Linked DNA regions of Homo sapiens: region 2 is linked to region 1. Evidence: fine-mapped expression QTL. Tissue or cell type: whole blood. Region 1 holds a variant in brackets; the other region holds the start of a gene. All regions are shown on one strand. Distances are between the middles of the regions.

What was found. PIP is the estimated chance that this variant, and not a neighbour inherited with it, causes the effect.
Region 2: it holds the start of SAMD4A, and the variant in region 1 is fine-mapped to the expression of SAMD4A in whole blood (TOPMed, PIP above 0.99).

What each region holds. Positions count from the first base shown.
Region 1 is chr14:54,780,489-54,788,593 of GRCh38, forward strand. SAMD4A (sterile alpha motif domain containing 4A) reads left to right here. Exons shown (of 13, transcript NM_015589.6): 12 at 4,049-4,132. Among named protein-coding and RNA genes, the nearest start is that of MIR4308, 94 kb to the right of the region's middle. The variant A/G (reference allele first, on the strand shown) is at 3,736.
Region 2 is chr14:54,563,576-54,571,680 of GRCh38, forward strand. It overlaps SAMD4A (sterile alpha motif domain containing 4A), which reads left to right and starts at 3,553. Exons shown (of 13, transcript NM_015589.6): 1 at 3,553-3,763; 2 at 3,921-4,537. The coding sequence starts at 4,342. RefSeq lists silencers at 1,575-1,624, 1,635-1,704, 2,335-2,464, 3,025-3,074, 3,195-3,384 and 2 more.

The sequences.
Region 1 (8,105 bases):
GCCATGCAGAGGCAGAAACCAGAACAGGGACCCAAGTACAGTACTGGATAAATATTTCCTCCATGTCTTCTAATAAATCAAGGCAGACATCCCTGTTCAGGACTGGCAGACAATGGGTAGGGAGATTGATAAATAAATCAATTCTGTCATAGCCAAGAACCCAGCTGGGCCCACAGCCTCCTGCCTCTGAGCATCAACTTGGGGCAAGATGGTACAATATCATCTTATACCATGTTGTACCCATCACTTTTTGTGAAAGCGTTGGTCCCAGAGGACCTCCACAGGCACTGACCTTCTGCAGGCTTAGGAATGTTAGGAGGCCACCAGAGAAAAGGTGCGTTCCCATGGTCAACTCAGGGATGCTATTCATTACTCCTGCCACCCTCCATGGCCATCTCTGCCATCCTCAGCTTGCCTGCTGCCCCACCCCTCTGTTTCCCTGCCTGTGCCGTTTCTTTCCCTTTTGTTACCATCCTCCCCCTTTCTTCTTAGTTCTCTTGTCTTCCTTTCTTCTTTACTCATCTCATCACAGCAGACCAGGTCCCACTGCTCTGTCCCTTTTTGTCTTCCCTGCTTTCTCTCCTCCTAGCAACCCTGCTGCTCAGTGAACCAGACTCCACACCTTTCTAGTTATCCAACAGAGTTGCCTCCGCTGTCATTGGCAAAACGGGATTCTATAGATTTTTCCTGGAATGCCCCAGCCTGTTTCTTATTCTAAAGTCCTAAAGAAATTGGCTCCTTACCCTCAGTGCCTTGGAGAAAAAGCACTGCAGAATTGCACCGTGGGTGCCACACATGTGAGACCCAGCAGGGATGGACGGTTACTGCCAAGGACAAGCCCTTTGGGCTCCTCAGGTGGATGCTGCAGCAGCACCTCATTAGGGATGGGTAGCATTCTCTTCCGGAATCTTCTTGACCCTGGGCCTGAGCACAGGACTACTCCATACGTGTGGGACTTCTGAAAAGATACAATTAATGTCTCAAGTCAGCCTAGACCTTGGGGATTCCAAAACTAGCGATCCTTACTGAATACTGGAATACTGGTCCTCAGAGATGCCATCTGAGCTGAAGAAACATGCCTCCTTTGGGAAAGAGCAGAGGAGGCTCAGTTAAAGAGGGGTCTTTCCTTTTGCCTTCCTGAAGACTCACATCTCCATCTGCCTGGTCTGTGGCCACGAGGGGCAGGGGCCTGGGATAAATGAGATGGGCCCTCAGGGTTAACAGGAGCCACAGCAAGGGTTGGCCTGGTGGTTTATGTTGGTCTGTGGGGCAAGAGCTGCCCGAATGCCCCTCTGGGGCACCTAGCCCCATACAGCTGAGGGTTCCTAGCCTGAGATGGAAGCTGTTTTCCACCCAACTGGTCTTTCTGTCTTATACGTGCGGCGAGATGGCATGGATCTGTTTTTATCAAATACACAATTAAAAAGTCACACTATTAGGAAACTCTGCAGTGTGAACATATGGGCTTCTCCCAAGACTTAGAATTTTTCAGAGCCACTCGGAGTGTTGGGGGTCACGGCTCCCCAGTGCATGGAAGCAAAGAGCTGGGGAGAAGAAGCGAACACCCCCACTTCCCACCTAAAAGAGCAGCCACGAAGGTTTGGGGATTCTGGAGCGGAGAGCCCTGCGTTTCTCAGCCCCCTTTTTGGAACACGCAATCCCAGGCTTGGAAAATGGCATTTTGCTGCGTGTTGGCAAGAAATCCTGCAGCTGAAACACTTCTCTCCAAATGTCGAGCATCTTTATTTATCCAAATCTCTCCACAGTGTTTGTTTAAAGGGGAGCGCTGGAGAGTAAACTAAATCTTACAATGAGCATATGGATGGCTATAATTGCTGAGGTTTGTTTTTTTTTTTCATATTTGCTAACTCGCTATATATAAAATTGTGTTTCTATTTTATAGATTTCACACCCTGAAGACTGCTAATTTTTGCATGCATATGATTTTCACATGAATGGATGAAAATACTAAAATCTCTTCCCCCTGGAATTGTCTAATTGCCCCGACCCTACTCTAACAGCAACTAGTGGGTGGGGGCGGTGGAGACTCCTGCCATTCTCTGTGGCACCCCACTTCCCTGGAAGCTCAGTCGGCCTCCGTCTGCTCACGTATTGGCACGGTTGTCTTCCAAACCCATCGATGCCGGAACATGGGTCAGGAAGAACACAGTCAGCTCTCTGGTGCTTTCCATAGCGTTCCTTTTTGCCAGGCTTCTGAGATTTTTAAATAACGGAAGCAACATCTGCCTCTGAATTAGCTGACAATGGGAAACACACATTGCAGAGATTATCTTAATGTATAGCAAATCAAGGAAAACAAAACTTTGACTTAACCATTGGTTTCAGCTTCCTATCCCACCAAGCCACCAACTTCGTTTCACTTCTCTTTCTTCTCTCTCTGGCCCCATGTGCTCCCTTGGTGGAGACATGAAGGAGCAGGCAAGTGGCCTGCAGGGGGACCCCGGGATGCTTTGCCCACTTGACAGGTAGAGGAGCTAAGGCCCTCAGCATGGAACAGGTTCCCAGGCTCACAGAGGAAGGTGGTGGCAACACGGAGACTTCTCGGTCACCTGGAACACACCCCGCTGTGGACACCCCCTCTGGGACTTTTTTTCTGCCTCTCCCCTTAGGATTTTGCAATTCTTTTCAAACCAGTGTCACAAAACTTTAAAAAAAAAAAAAAAAACAAAAAGGATTTCACAACTCTTAGCTGTCAGAGTTTCCTTCTACTTCTTCTACTTTCTCTTTTTCTTCGCTCAGTAGACATGTATGAGGCAGAAGGCCAGGGCTGGGCGCTGTGGGAGATTCAGAGAGATAGGGAAGCATCATCACTGTCTACAAGGCACTTCCAGGTAGTTGAGGACATTTAAAGTCGCCACTGGATGAGGCCTGCGGAGGTGCTGACAGTGAGGGCTCCAGCAGGTGAGAGGAGGTGGCTCCCAGACACTGCCTCCTGCTCACAAGAGGCGACATTGGAACCTGGGGAGATAGAGGGGTTCCAGGTGGTAGAGGGGAGATTGTGGTGAGAATGTGCACAGCACTGTCGGTCAGTGGGAGCCGAGCCCCTACTGCCTGCAGAGTGGGTGTCTCAGCCCTTGATTCTAGAGGCCCTCGAGGCTGAGTGTGTTGACAGTTACCTGCAGTTGCTGTGGCAGGTGGCTGAGCCCCGGCTCTGGAGTCAGAGAGGGTCTTGTCCCAGCTTTGTGTTAGTTGGCTAACTTTGATGAGTGACTTCACCTCTCTGAACCCCACTTGGGCTTGTTGGGCAGATTAAGGAGCCCGCACACCTAAAGCCCCCCACGTGGTCTCACACTAAGAGGTGCGTGCTGGGCCCTGGCTTTCCTCTCCCACTCTAGATGCATGCCAGGCCCTGCTCTAGGCACAGGGGGCAGAGCCATGTTCTGCTCCAATGAGGTGAGCACTCAGCGGGGTCAGGGGAGGGGGACAGTAGAAAGTGAATACAAATATCAAATATGACAGCTGTGGGCGAAGGCTATGAAGAAAAATAAAGCAGGGGAAAGGGATAGTGTGGGGGCATGGCTCATACAAGGAACAAAGTCCTTTCCAAGGAGATGATAGAGCCAGAAATGTGAAGGCAGGGAGAGCCATGGAAACCACCCCAGGGAACAGCGGTGCAAAGGCCGTGAGGTAGGAGGGGGCCTGGGGCAGAGCAGAGGAAGGAGAGAGCTGTATGAGGGTACAGAGATAACAAGGGCCTGGATCATGCGGGGCCTT[A/G]TGGGCCAGGGCAGGAGGTTGGCTGTTACTTTGATGGGAGGCCGCTGGAGGGTTCTGAGCAGAGGAGGCACAGACTGTGACATGACCAGCTATTTTTAGTCTCCGTTTTGTTCCAGGTTCCCAAGTTCACAGTGGACTGTGTTTAACAGACCTTAGAGGTTGGTTGAGCCTGAGTGGAGCCCCTTCCATGCCAGCGCTGACAGTCCCCAAGTCCTCCCAGGGAGGTACACCAGACCTTTCTCCTGAAGGTGGAACCAGGTGGCACCCTGCTTATCTCCTCCTTGTCACCAACATAACCCTTTATCGCCTGCAGAATTCCAGCTTCCCGTGACCGAACCTGACATCAACAACAGGCTGGAGTCGTTGTGCCTCAGTATGACCGAACACGCCCTGGGAGGTGAGTGTGTTCTTCCTGCATGTCCCCATGTCCCTGTTACCGTGTGCCTGGGAGAACTGGCCATCTGCTGTCTATACCGTGGCAGGAGCTCAGGAGAATTGGGGGAGGACAAGGAGGGGTAGGCAGGGGACAGGGAGAAAGAGTGGCCTTAGGGTACTGTTGGACCATTTTCCAGCGGCACCATGCCAAGTGGCCAGTGCCCTGTTTCTCCTCCTTTTCTGGGAGGTGAGTCAGGGACCTGGCAATCAAAGCTGTCCCTCTGTCCCCAGAAGCTCCACCTCCCAGTGCACATGGGAATCACACCACAGCAGTTGTCCCAGCCAAGTGCCAGGCCTGGAGGAGTCAGGGACATGAGACATGGCTTTTAGTAGGAATATCCCGCACAACACTGGATGCTTCCCTTCTCTGCACTAGATCCCCCAGCCTGGTCCAAGCATAGCCCAGCTTGCCTTAGAAATATAATTTTTGAAAAACAGAAAACCCAGCTTGTTTGTGTATCTCCCAGTTGCAAACAACTTTCTTGACACCTGGAGCCCAAAGCAGGCTGAGGTGTCCTTTCCTGTGTGACAGGGACAGGTTGAGTTAGAGGCGCCTGCACGTCCACTGCCCAAGCCCAGAATGGGGGCTGTGCTGTGCAGGGCTGTGGCCCCACAAGCAGCTCACAGAAGCATCTGTGCTCCCCCGTGTGTTTGGCTGGAAGCCATGCTTGGTCACAGCAGCCCTGGGAGGCCTTCAGCTCCCTCCTGGTACTAAGCGGGCACCTTTCTCTGGGCCTGGATATTTATGATGCTTGGCAGGCAGAGGAGAGAAGAGATGTCTGCCATTTCCTGCCAGCTTCCTGGGAGGCTCTGTGCCACAGAGACACAGAGAGGCCTCCTGTGAGCCTTTCCAATAGCCCTATCCAGTCTACACTTGCTCTTAGCCAAAAGGCCGAGAAGCGATAGCCCTATCCAGTCTAGACACACTTACCCACCCAGAGAAGGGCTGTCTGCACACCTAGAGCCAAGACGTGCGCCACCTGGCAGTGGTGGGGAAAAGACTGCCATCCTCTGCTGCTTCAGAGAGCCTTGTCCTCCAGACCTAAGGTTGTTAGATTTTTAGTCTCTGCAAACACAATCTTATCCTGAAACCAAATATGAAATAGATCAGTGCTCTGCATGGAGCAGAGTGGTGGGCCCGGGACCACACCCACCTGACCTTAGCATCAGGGGGAGCTGAAAGCCTTCCAAGGGCATCACAGAGCTTCACCAAACAGATGGTGGGAAGACACAGCCCCTTCTGTGACTTCCCCCAGAGCTCTATAAAGAGCCTCATTTGCGAGCCACTGCTCTCTGCCTTGGCCATTCAGATCTCAGGAACATCACTGGGCCATCCCTGGTACCTCTGGCAGGAGGTGCTGCCAGCTCATCTTTACCTCATAGAGGAGACTGGGTCAGCAGCCCCCTAATGAGAAATGGGAGACAACTCAAATGTCCACCAAAGGATGAACATGGCTCAAAAAAATGTGGTGTATCCAAACAGTGAAAGAGCATTCAGCCTTTAAAAAGCAAAGAAGTACCAACCTATGCGATGCAGTGGATGAATCTTAACATTATGCTGAGTGAAACAAGCCAGGCATAAAGGACCACAGAGCGTATGATTCCATTTATGTGAAATGTCCAGGATAGACTAATCTACTGGGACAGAAAGTAGATGAGTGGTTGCCAGTGGCTGAAGGGAGGAGGATGCAAATATTCTGGAATTAGATAGTGGTGAGGGTTGCACAGCTTTGCAAATATACTAAAAACCACTGAATTGTATACTTTCAAAGGGTGCAATTTATGATATGCAAATATTTCAATTAAAAGTAGTAATGACAGTCTCCCTGGGGCCAGAGTTAGGATAGCAGCTGGTGAGTGAGTCCCCTGAGCTGGCACCTGCCAGAGCTCTGACATGGGGAGGGAAGCCCCTGTGCTCCCCTGCTCGACAGTGGCCAGCTGGGTGGGGGACTGACTCAGTCTTTCACTGCTTTTGACCAAAGAAAAAGGAGAACTGACCTTTTCCCCCAGGGCTTGATACATCTCAGACAATTGGCATTTTGGAGGCTCATATCAAACTGCTAAGTACCAACATTATCATCATTAGCAGCAAGAATACCAAATGCTCTTTATTAAAGGAAGGTTTTCATTGAAAAGACTTCGTTTTTTTCAGTCTGTTCTGTTTTTACAGAAAACCTCTCTGAACCGATGGGTTTTTTGCTAATGTTTTCATCTTGTTAATCTCCTAAGCTTTTTTAGTGCTGTGTTTTTTCCCAATGATCTCCTCTGGTGGGAAGCCTCGTAAGCAGTTTCCTGAGCAGAGAATGCAAATTAAGTTCAGGGTGGCCTAGTTGGGCACAGTGGCAGTGTGCCCTCCCAATATGACAGAGCTTCTCTGCTGGCCAACCCCTTCCAGGTGCCAGGAAAGATGGCCTTGCTGGAGACAGTATGCTAATGAGTCAAGTCCTTTTATGGGAAGAGGAACGGGCAGGGAGAGGAAAGCACAGTGAAAGAGGTTCCAATGCTTGCAACTCAGGAATGGAGAAAGAGAGGCTCACATCTGTTGGCCTCTAGGATTGGTGATCTGACACCACTGACACACTCAGGGACCATTGCTTCCTTTCTTTAAAATCTCCCCTAAAATCATACAGAACTTATATACAAGTGCACTGGGTCTGTTTGGACTATTACTTACAACAGCATGTGAACCTACAGTTATCTCAAAAGTTTCAACTGAGGAAGTGCTTCTCCTCCAAGGCCCCACTGGCAAGAGTTGCCAGCCTGGCTCCACCCACAAGGAAGCCAGGAACCAACCCCCTGTGGTGGCCTCAGCACGCCTGTCACTTGGGTCCTCCAGCTTTCCCTGGAACACACTGCCACTCCCTTCTCACACCCAAGTTCTGCCAAGCAAATAGAGATGCTGCATCTGGTGGACCAGTTCTGTAATATTGGGGCTTGGACTGGGACATCAGCAAAGCCAGGGAGGCACCCCACAGCCCTGTCTCACCCACATTTAGTGGTCACTGAACGCAGTTATTCCTACCGCCTGTGATGGCTAATCCATGCCTCTCTCTGCTCACTGGAAAAAATCCTTGTCAGTTCTGGCACAGACTGTTATAGGGGCCTCTTAACTGGTCCACCTGCCACCAGCCTTATCCTTCCTCAGGTTATCTGATGCAGCTGCCAGAGAAACCATTCTAAAATTAAATCTCATTACTCTACTGCTTATAATTCCCCAACTACCTACCTCTAAGCTCTTGTTCATGGTATGCAAGACCCTATGGTCTGCTCCTGGGGACCGTTCTAGAACCCACGTGTAAGCAGACAGCCAAAAAGGGGCCGGGCAGGCCTCACACCTCTGATGGTCATATCCCCTGCCTTCTCTGTAGCCTGGGTCATCCACTTCTCCAAAACGTAGATGTGGCAGATTCTGGGCGGCCTCAGCACTCTCCCACCTCCCCAAGACTGTTCAGTTCTAAGTGCCCACAACACCTACCTCAGACATCTCTGCCTTTGATCAGATTCTCGAGACAGAGAATCTGGATTTGTTTGGGTCAGATGTGTCCATCCCTCTGGTCTGCTCAGCTGTGGACAGGGTCACAGCCACCTTGTCCCCAGTGTCTCATCAGGGACGTGGGTTGAGAAGGAGAGGCTGCCAAAGAAAGGGATGTGAGCTAGACAGGTCCACCTGCGTGTCCGTTGCAGCCCCTGCCTGGCTCTTCCACCCCATCTCCTCTACTGCATTCCCCATCCTTCATCCTAAACCTCCAACGCACCCTCAGCTCCACCACCGGATGACCTATCATCCCACCTATGCATGCACCGCACACCATCCCCACCCTCCTCCTCCTGCCAGCACCAGCTACAAAAGTCACTTTGTATCTCTCTGAAACTGTCCTTGACTTCCCAGGCCAACCGGGCAGCCATCATTCCTTCCTCCACGATCCTGCTCTCTT
Region 2 (8,105 bases), 220 kb before region 1:
TGGGAATGTTAATTCATGATAATCTGATCTGTGTTTTATTCATATAAAGTATCTCTTGGTTAGTACCCCATCGTGTATTCAGTGCCTGTACTTGGTACTCAGAATACTCAGGGTACTTATTGCCTAACCCAGTGCCTGGCACAAGGTGACACAATAAGTATTTTTCAAATGAATAAATAGGAATACAGTGAACATAGACATAGTAATATCTCTTCTAATGAAAGGATATTTTCATTCATTTTTCAAGTGATGTGACTATATAGTAAGTGTTAGGCACTTCTTATTTATCAATAATACTGGGTCCAGGTTGACATAGGAAAAATCCACACTTAATACAATACCTTATATTTAATGAATGTATTTTTTTTTTCCTTTAGAGTGATGACTTCACTCTGGGGAAGAGTGAGGCCACATCCCTGGGTTTTATTTATACTCCCTTTCCTTTGCCCAGAGGAAAGGAATTGTTAACACACAAATACAAGAGTACTGACAGCTCATGTCATGCTCAACTTTATATGTCTTAGAGTGTCCTGAACAGTAAGAATTCAAAAATGAGATAAATCAATGTCTTTTCCTAGGTCAAAGGCTGGTGTAAGAACTACACTTTTCCAGTAGATGGCAGTATTTTCATTCACCAGCTTAAGTTTTGTTTTTTTTTTTTGTTGTTTTGTTTTTAGTTTTACTATACCTTTAGTAAGCTGCAGGTGAAAATACATGTTAATGAAATTTCTGGTTTTTTCACTTTCTTTTAAAAAAAATTCACTCTTGGGAGCTTCCAAAAGCCCTAGAACGACATCTGCTTTGCCTACAATTTATAGCAAGGTATATACCGAAGTAGACCATACTCTCTAATCCTCCCTATTTCCTGATATAAGTTATTACTAAGAATTAGCTAATTCATAGTAATCTCTTGGAGAAAATCTATCAAGCCTTTCTGCCTCTACAGTAACAAAACAAAACAAAAATAAAACACTGACTTCAGGTTTCCTGTTTTCTAAATAGGGCAAAATATTCATTAAATTAAGCGGATACCTCACCTGTCTGGTTAATAATTAACTTTTAAAAAATCCACATTTTTGCAGCTCGACCTCGACAAGACCTTTCAAAAACCCTAACAGATGGTTAGGTGCTATCACGTGTCTGAAACGAACTATACGCTGCAGAAACTAAATTTGAGGAGGAAGGGAAGAAAGCATTTAAATTCCAGGGACATATGCCGGAGTTGGAAAACAAAAGTGTTAATTAGTGGAATAATATCTCAGATACTTTCTCTTCAAAACAGTGGATTAGCAGGAGTAGGAAAGGCTGGGTCTGAAACACGCGTTTCACTGCCTTCTCAGAATTACTCCCGTATAAACAAAGCCTCAAGTTGCTGGAGGGAGCAGTGTTTCCTCTGAAATCACGGAGATAGCCCAGATTTAGTCATCCAGTCCTTCTTGCGAATATTCAACCCATATCAGGAGGTACAGAGGTTTTTAGGGTTTAGGGTATTTTTAACCAAACCTTTACTTTCAAGACTAGCAGAGGCACTTTCGCAGCCCACCCTGCGCCACTCAGCCTCTGCGCTGCGCCCTCCTCGCCTCTCGCGCGGCAAGGACCTGAAGCCCCGGTGTGGCCGCGGCCCTGCGCACTCTCCAGATCCAGGTGAAGGTTGCGAGGCCTGGCGACGCCTAAGCGCTGACAGGTGGCCTCGCCCCGCCTCTTTGTCGCCCAGGGCGGCGCTCGCCTCCGCTCCAGGCCAGAAGCCGCAGCCCGCGCGCCAGGCACAGCTCCCCCGACCGGTCTCAGGAGTTCGGCCACCTCCCCGGGGAAGAGTGGGACTCAGCCAGGCGCCGGGCCGGCCTCTAGGAGCCTGCGCCAGAGCAAAGGGCATCCGGCACCCGACCCGGGCCAGGCCCTTGGACTAGGGCGGCACGGAACCTAGCGCCTGGGCAGGTCCAACCCTGCGCACTGCCCCTCAGCCTCGTGAACCCTTCGCCTCCACGACCCCCGGAACCCATCCCAGCAAGTGCGGCAGTGACCTCGGGTCTCACCGCCCGGGGGCCAAACACCTCGGCCACCCCGGGGCCCCAGAAGGGCCGAGGGTCAGCCGAGCGGACGAACCACATTCCCAAGGACAAGCAGCGGGTGGCAGCACCGCCCCCGCCCGAGCGCCCTCGGGTCCCTTTCTGCCGGGGCTCCAGTGGCTTGAGTGTCCCGACCCCTCCAGAACACGCAGGCGGCCGCAGGAAGAAATTCACCCGGACCCGTCCTCTTCCCCGAACTTCTTCGTTCCTCTCGGAGGTTCCTTCTACCCGACCCCTCTGCGCCACCAGCTCCTCCCACTCCGCTCCCCTCCCCTTTTTCTGGTCCCCACTTAGGAATCCGTCCCCCCGCCCTGCGCCGGGTCCGGGGTTCCTCCCCCCGGCTCCCCCCGCGTGCCGTCGCCGCCGCCCGGGTTCCTCTCCCCCCGCTCGGGCGCTCCCTGCCAAGCCCATGATGTAATGGTGTATGTTAATCAGTAGCATGTGGGGAGCTCCGGCTCGGGCGGCTCAGTCCTCCGCGAGCCGACACTGGAGGCAGCAGCAGCGGCGGCTGCAGCGGCCCCGACTCGAAGCACCGCACTCTCCCCGCGCCGCCCGCCCCGACGGCATGGCCCGCGGCCGGCGCTCCGGGCGCCCCCAACCCCGCTGAGAGCCGCCGCGGCCCCGGACCCGCGCAAGGGCCCCCGAGCCGCCGGGATGAGCCGCGCCGAGGTGAGCGCTCCCTCCCTACGGCCCTCGGCGGGGGACCCGCGGGTCACTGGGGGTCCCCTCCCCGGGGGCTTCCCCCTCCGCCCGAGAAGTTCTGGGAGCCGGAAGCAGCGTGTTGTTGGAAGCTAGCGGCTCCTTGAAGGCTGAGTCGCTGGGTTCTCCTCCCCGCCGGCGGCGGCCACGAGAACCGGGATGGGACTGGGGGAACCCCCGCAGCCGAACTTTCTTTGCTGTCGTTGGGGGGCGTGTGCCTGCGGCGCCGATCCGCATTCCCCGCGGGGCCGCCCCGCTGGCCGAAGGGAGCAGCGCTGCGGACCCCGGCCGTCCCCTCGCGGGGCGTGTGCCCAGCGCTGTGCCGCCCTCGGCCTGCGACGCGCGGGCGAGGCTCCGGGCCGGACAGACCAGCCCGTAGGCGGCGGCGGCAGGATGCCTGCCACACACGCGCGCACACACACACGCACACGCGCGCGCACAGTGACCGCTCCGGCCGGAGCAGGCCCAGGGAGACCTCCCGGGTGGGCTGGTGCGGCGCGGCGCGGGGGAGCCGGGGCTCTGGGTTGCGCCGCCGCCCGCTGGGCGCGGAGCTTTGGGTGGAGAGAGTTTATTTTTGTCTCGAGCTGCTGCCGCGGCTGCTCACGGCCTAAATCCAGAGGGGCGCCTGGCGGTGGAGATGCTGGCTGTTGCTGTAGATGGAGCTGCAGCCGCTCGGCTGCTTCTCTGGGAGGAGGAGGAGGAGTAAGAGGAGGAGGAAGGAACTCGGGCTGCCGCTGCCTCCGCCTCTGCTTTGCATTAGCTCCCACCCCCACCCCCGCGCCCCTTCGCAGCCGCATTGCAAGTTTTCTGCGCGGGGAAGATCTGTTGCTGGTGCTGGCGTTCTTAAGCACGGCGCCCGAGGCCACCCCAGGCGGGCCGTGAGGGGAGCACCAGCCGTTGGCAGCGGCAGCAACAGGAAGCCGCGGGGTCTCCTCCCGCACCTGGGAAGCAGGCTTCTCGCTGTTACCCGGTGGGGAATAGCCCATCTCCCACATCGGGTGCGGAGGGGGCGGAGGGGGCGGCTGGATTTCGGCGAACCCAACCTTCCGCGGGACGCCCCCTCCCCTGGCCCCAGCACCCTCTGATGCCCTCGTCCCCCCAGGGCGCGCTCCTCCGCTAGCCGAGGTCTCACTGCAGCTCTTTCTCTCCTTCCAGTGGTGATCGCCGCTCGGGAATGCGGGCGTGAAGGGTCCGAGTTGCCGCCCAGCGGGGAGGAGACCCCAGGACGCCGGAAATCACCATCCCAAAGCTGCAAGAAGGGGGGAGAAAGCATTCTTCATTCAGTTGTGTGCCTTGTGGGGGATTTTTAAAAAGTCGTTTTTTTTTTTAAAGAAACATTTCCGTGCTACTGTCTGTCATCGTCTCTGGGGAAATCAGCCAGAACCACCGGAACGTAACTGAAACCAGACAAGAGAGGCAGGAGCCCAGGCAGTACCTGCAGCGTCCGGGCACCAGAGCCACCTTGGAACAGGAACGCGTCTCCGGCCGCGGGGCTGCGGCTCCGCCAAACTTTGGGGCGGGCGGGGCGGGCTGGGGCGCCCAGGGGGCTCTGTAGACCGAGGGCGGCCCCCTAACCATGATGTTTCGCGACCAGGTCGGGGTGCTGGCGGGCTGGTTTAAGGGCTGGAACGAGTGCGAGCAGACTGTTGCGCTGCTGTCGCTGCTCAAGCGCGTGAGCCAGACCCAGGCCCGCTTCCTCCAGCTCTGCCTGGAGCACTCGCTGGCCGACTGCGCCGAGCTGCACGTCCTCGAACGCGAGGCCAACAGCCCCGGTAAGTGTGCGGCGGCCGCCGCCGCCGTCCCGCCTGCCCAACCCCCGCTCCTCCCTCCGCTTCTCTGCCTCGGGCCAGGCCGAGGCCAGTCCCTGCCAGCCGCGCCGGGACCTGGACGGCGTGGCCCCGAGGCCCTCGGAATCCACCCCCTCCGGGTGTCCCCCCACTACCGCCCCCCACCTACTTACCTCCGCCGGCCGCTTTGGGATTTTGCCCACTGTGAACTCCGTCAGCCCTTTCCGTGTGGTAGCTACGGTAGCATGAATGATTGATTTTTCTCTCATGCAGTTTCCTGGGAAATAAGTAAGTCAGGTCACGTAGAGTCTGGATTTTCTGGGTGTGTGTGTTTTTTCCTTCCTCCTCCTTCTTTTGGGCAACGTGGCTCGCTGGATTTCAGCAACACATGATAGATGCCCGGGACTGCCCTTCAGAAGCCAAGCTTGGATAAGGCTGTGTGAGGAGTACATGAAAATCCAATTTTATTATTCATTTTTCCCCACAGATATTCTGGTTTTAGAGCTTCGTCTTCAGAATAATATGCAGGTGACGCTAGAGACTAGTAAAATGACATTTGCAGCATATATATATATATATATATATATATATATATATATATATATATATATATAATGCGGTTAAGCTTACTGCTCGTGACATTATCCATATTGATACGGATCTTGTAGAAAAAAAGGGTCTTGGAGAAAGGACAGGCATGAAGTGGGTTACTTAATGCTTTTCGTTAGGAAACTTTACTGAATAGAACAGAATCGTTTCATATTACCCTGCTAGTATTTACAGACACCTCAACTAGTATGGAAAGTGAATATAGTCGAAAGGTCCAGCAGTTTCCTATTTGCTAGCGTGGGTGGTGACAGACTGAAATTATATCCTGGAGGGTAGGAGGAGGCTGGGGGATGGGGGGAAAGTCTGATGGTTGTGATTTTGGATAGGGGGAAATTCTTTAGTTCATGCTGCTGCAGGAGGGTGAACAGAGTCCCCAGTGTTTATGCAGAGAAAAGAATGCAGGGTCCTCTTCCAGCTGTTCCATGTTGGAGCTGCGAGCCTGCAAAGCTCAGCAGAGGTCTGGGCTGCCATTTGATGACAAGGTCCAGTCCAGGGCAGTGGGGCCTGGGAGACACTAAAGTGAGTGTGCCTTCAGAGCAGCAAGAAGCGAGCCGGCCTACTCATTCCTCCTCCCTAGTATGGTGTGCACGATGGTGAAAACACTAGAATGGGATGCTTCCATATATAGAATCATAGGGTGGAAGTGACCGCTGGAAATCTTCACAGTTCTTTTCCTGACCAGACAGGACTGCACCCGAAAGATCCTGCATGGCCAAGTATGGAGGGCCACATTGAGGGAGATTCCATTGAGCCCGAGCCTCCCAGCTCACACCAGGACTCACTGGGGTGGCGATGACAGGGCCCCCTTTGGTTGAGCTCCACGTTTATAAATAGCTGGAGGGCCAGCCTCCTTCACTGGGGTGTGGAAGCATAATTGGGTAACTGATGATCCACCCTCTTTGCTTCCTTCCTTAATTTCAGCGGGAAGCCTGGTTTACCTGCTCGGTTTTACTTTCTCAGGTTTGACAAACAAGGTTATATAAACTTTTGCATTTTATAGATTGCAGAGGATTTACGCAGAGTCATTTAGGTTGAATGCTTGATTTCAGTGCTGGTAGGGACTGTTCAAACTCATCTTTAGGTTATTCAAATGTTGGAGCAGCACTTTTTCCCTTTGAGTAATGGAGATGACTTTTCCCAATAGAGCAGCCACCAGGTTAGTAAGTAAAACAGTTAAATGTTAAAATAAGGTGGCCTAATTTTAAAAATCTCATAATTTAAAAAATTGAACTGTGAATTTTTTGAAGTCACTTGGCATTTTTTTTCCCTTAAGACATGTTTGGCCATACTTATTTGTATAAGATACCCACCTGTTCATGCTGCTAAATGATGTAGATATACAAAATATAGAACCATTGTGTAAGATAGGAACTGGTCTCCAGTTTCTGGATTAATCCTTCGCCTAGACGTTTTGCCTGCATGGAAATCTTTGCAGTTGTTTTGTTGTGTGGCCAGGACAGAAATTTCTTAGGAGGTCATGTGATGATTTGGTTTACTTTCGGAGTGTGGGGATCATAAAGAGCATCAGGAGTTGTCATAGCATACCTGAGTCTGTAGTGTGGCTCTCTGCATATCCGGAAACTAGCCAAGAACCAGGAAGGGGGCAAAAAGTCCACTTCGCAACCAGAGTAGATAGCATGAAAGTCCAAGAGAATATTTCAGGCCCTCTCTCAGAATGTACTTGCTCTTATTCTAGACACAATCCTAACATTTAAAAAATTTGACAAATAATCCGTAGTGTATTGGGGGTAACACATTTAGAATGGGGTGAGGGACTGCTGTAATCAGTAGTAAAAAGTGACCCCTGACAGCCTGACAACTTGGAAAGAGACAGAAAAACTGTAACTTTAGACAAGAATTGGGGCAGAAACTTTGAAGGCTTGGGAATATTAGGGTGGGAACCCTCAATTGACCTTGTAGGCACCACTCTATAATAACATAAACAAATAATTGCTATTTACTGTTGTTAACGGTGAACTATGGAAATAATACATTTTTAGATACACTCTTTAAGAAGAGAAGGAAATGTTCAATATACTTTGGAAATGTTTACACCCAGAATAATTAACCTCTGAGCTGTTTTGATGTGTAAGGCTCTTACCAATTCAGAAAACTAGGCTGTGCAGAATGACTCATTCATTGGATTGCTGAGATTTCCTGTACCGAAGTCATCTTGTATCACTTTATTTTGTAATCATCAATTTAAAAAACCCTCACATTTTGTCTAGTGTTTAGAGATTTTAAAACTTGGTAAATGGGAACCAAATTCATATATGGGACTCGATCTCAGTATAATAAAAAAAAATTACTAGTAATAGTATGAATATATCTCTCGTTTTATGCAGGACTGATTTTAAATAGTGAGATATCCTGCGCATTAAACATGATTTATTTGAGATTTGTGGGATGTAATTTGGTGCTTTCATTCTCTTAAATTTATTGAGAATCTAGTGATTCACTGGTTCATCCTTTGCCTCAGGCTCATGGTCATTGGAGATTCCAAGAAATGATTGAATCAGTCCCTATGGATTTATTTGTATGTGTTTTTCTTTTAACAGATATGGTCATGATCAGTTCTCTAGTACAGTCTTGTTCCCAGGATCCTTATAACCTTAGATAAGTCTCTTCAGCTACTGCTCCAGTTGAACATTGAGACTTCTGGCCAGTCTCAGTTCCAGGACTAGCAGGTCATTTGATACCTACAAGTAGCAAAAATGCAACCCACTGACTTTACCTGAAGTTTCCAAAAGAAAAATAGACTTTGTGGCATTGTTTATTTATGGCTTTTGTCACTTGGACTTGAAATATATTTTTCATAGAGATTTATAAGTTAATCCACAAAAACGTAACCCACAAAATATACACTATTTGTGTATGTTTGTGGTAAGTAAATGACAATAAATTCCTATACTTATAGTTAAATACAAGAGAAAAGGGTATCCAA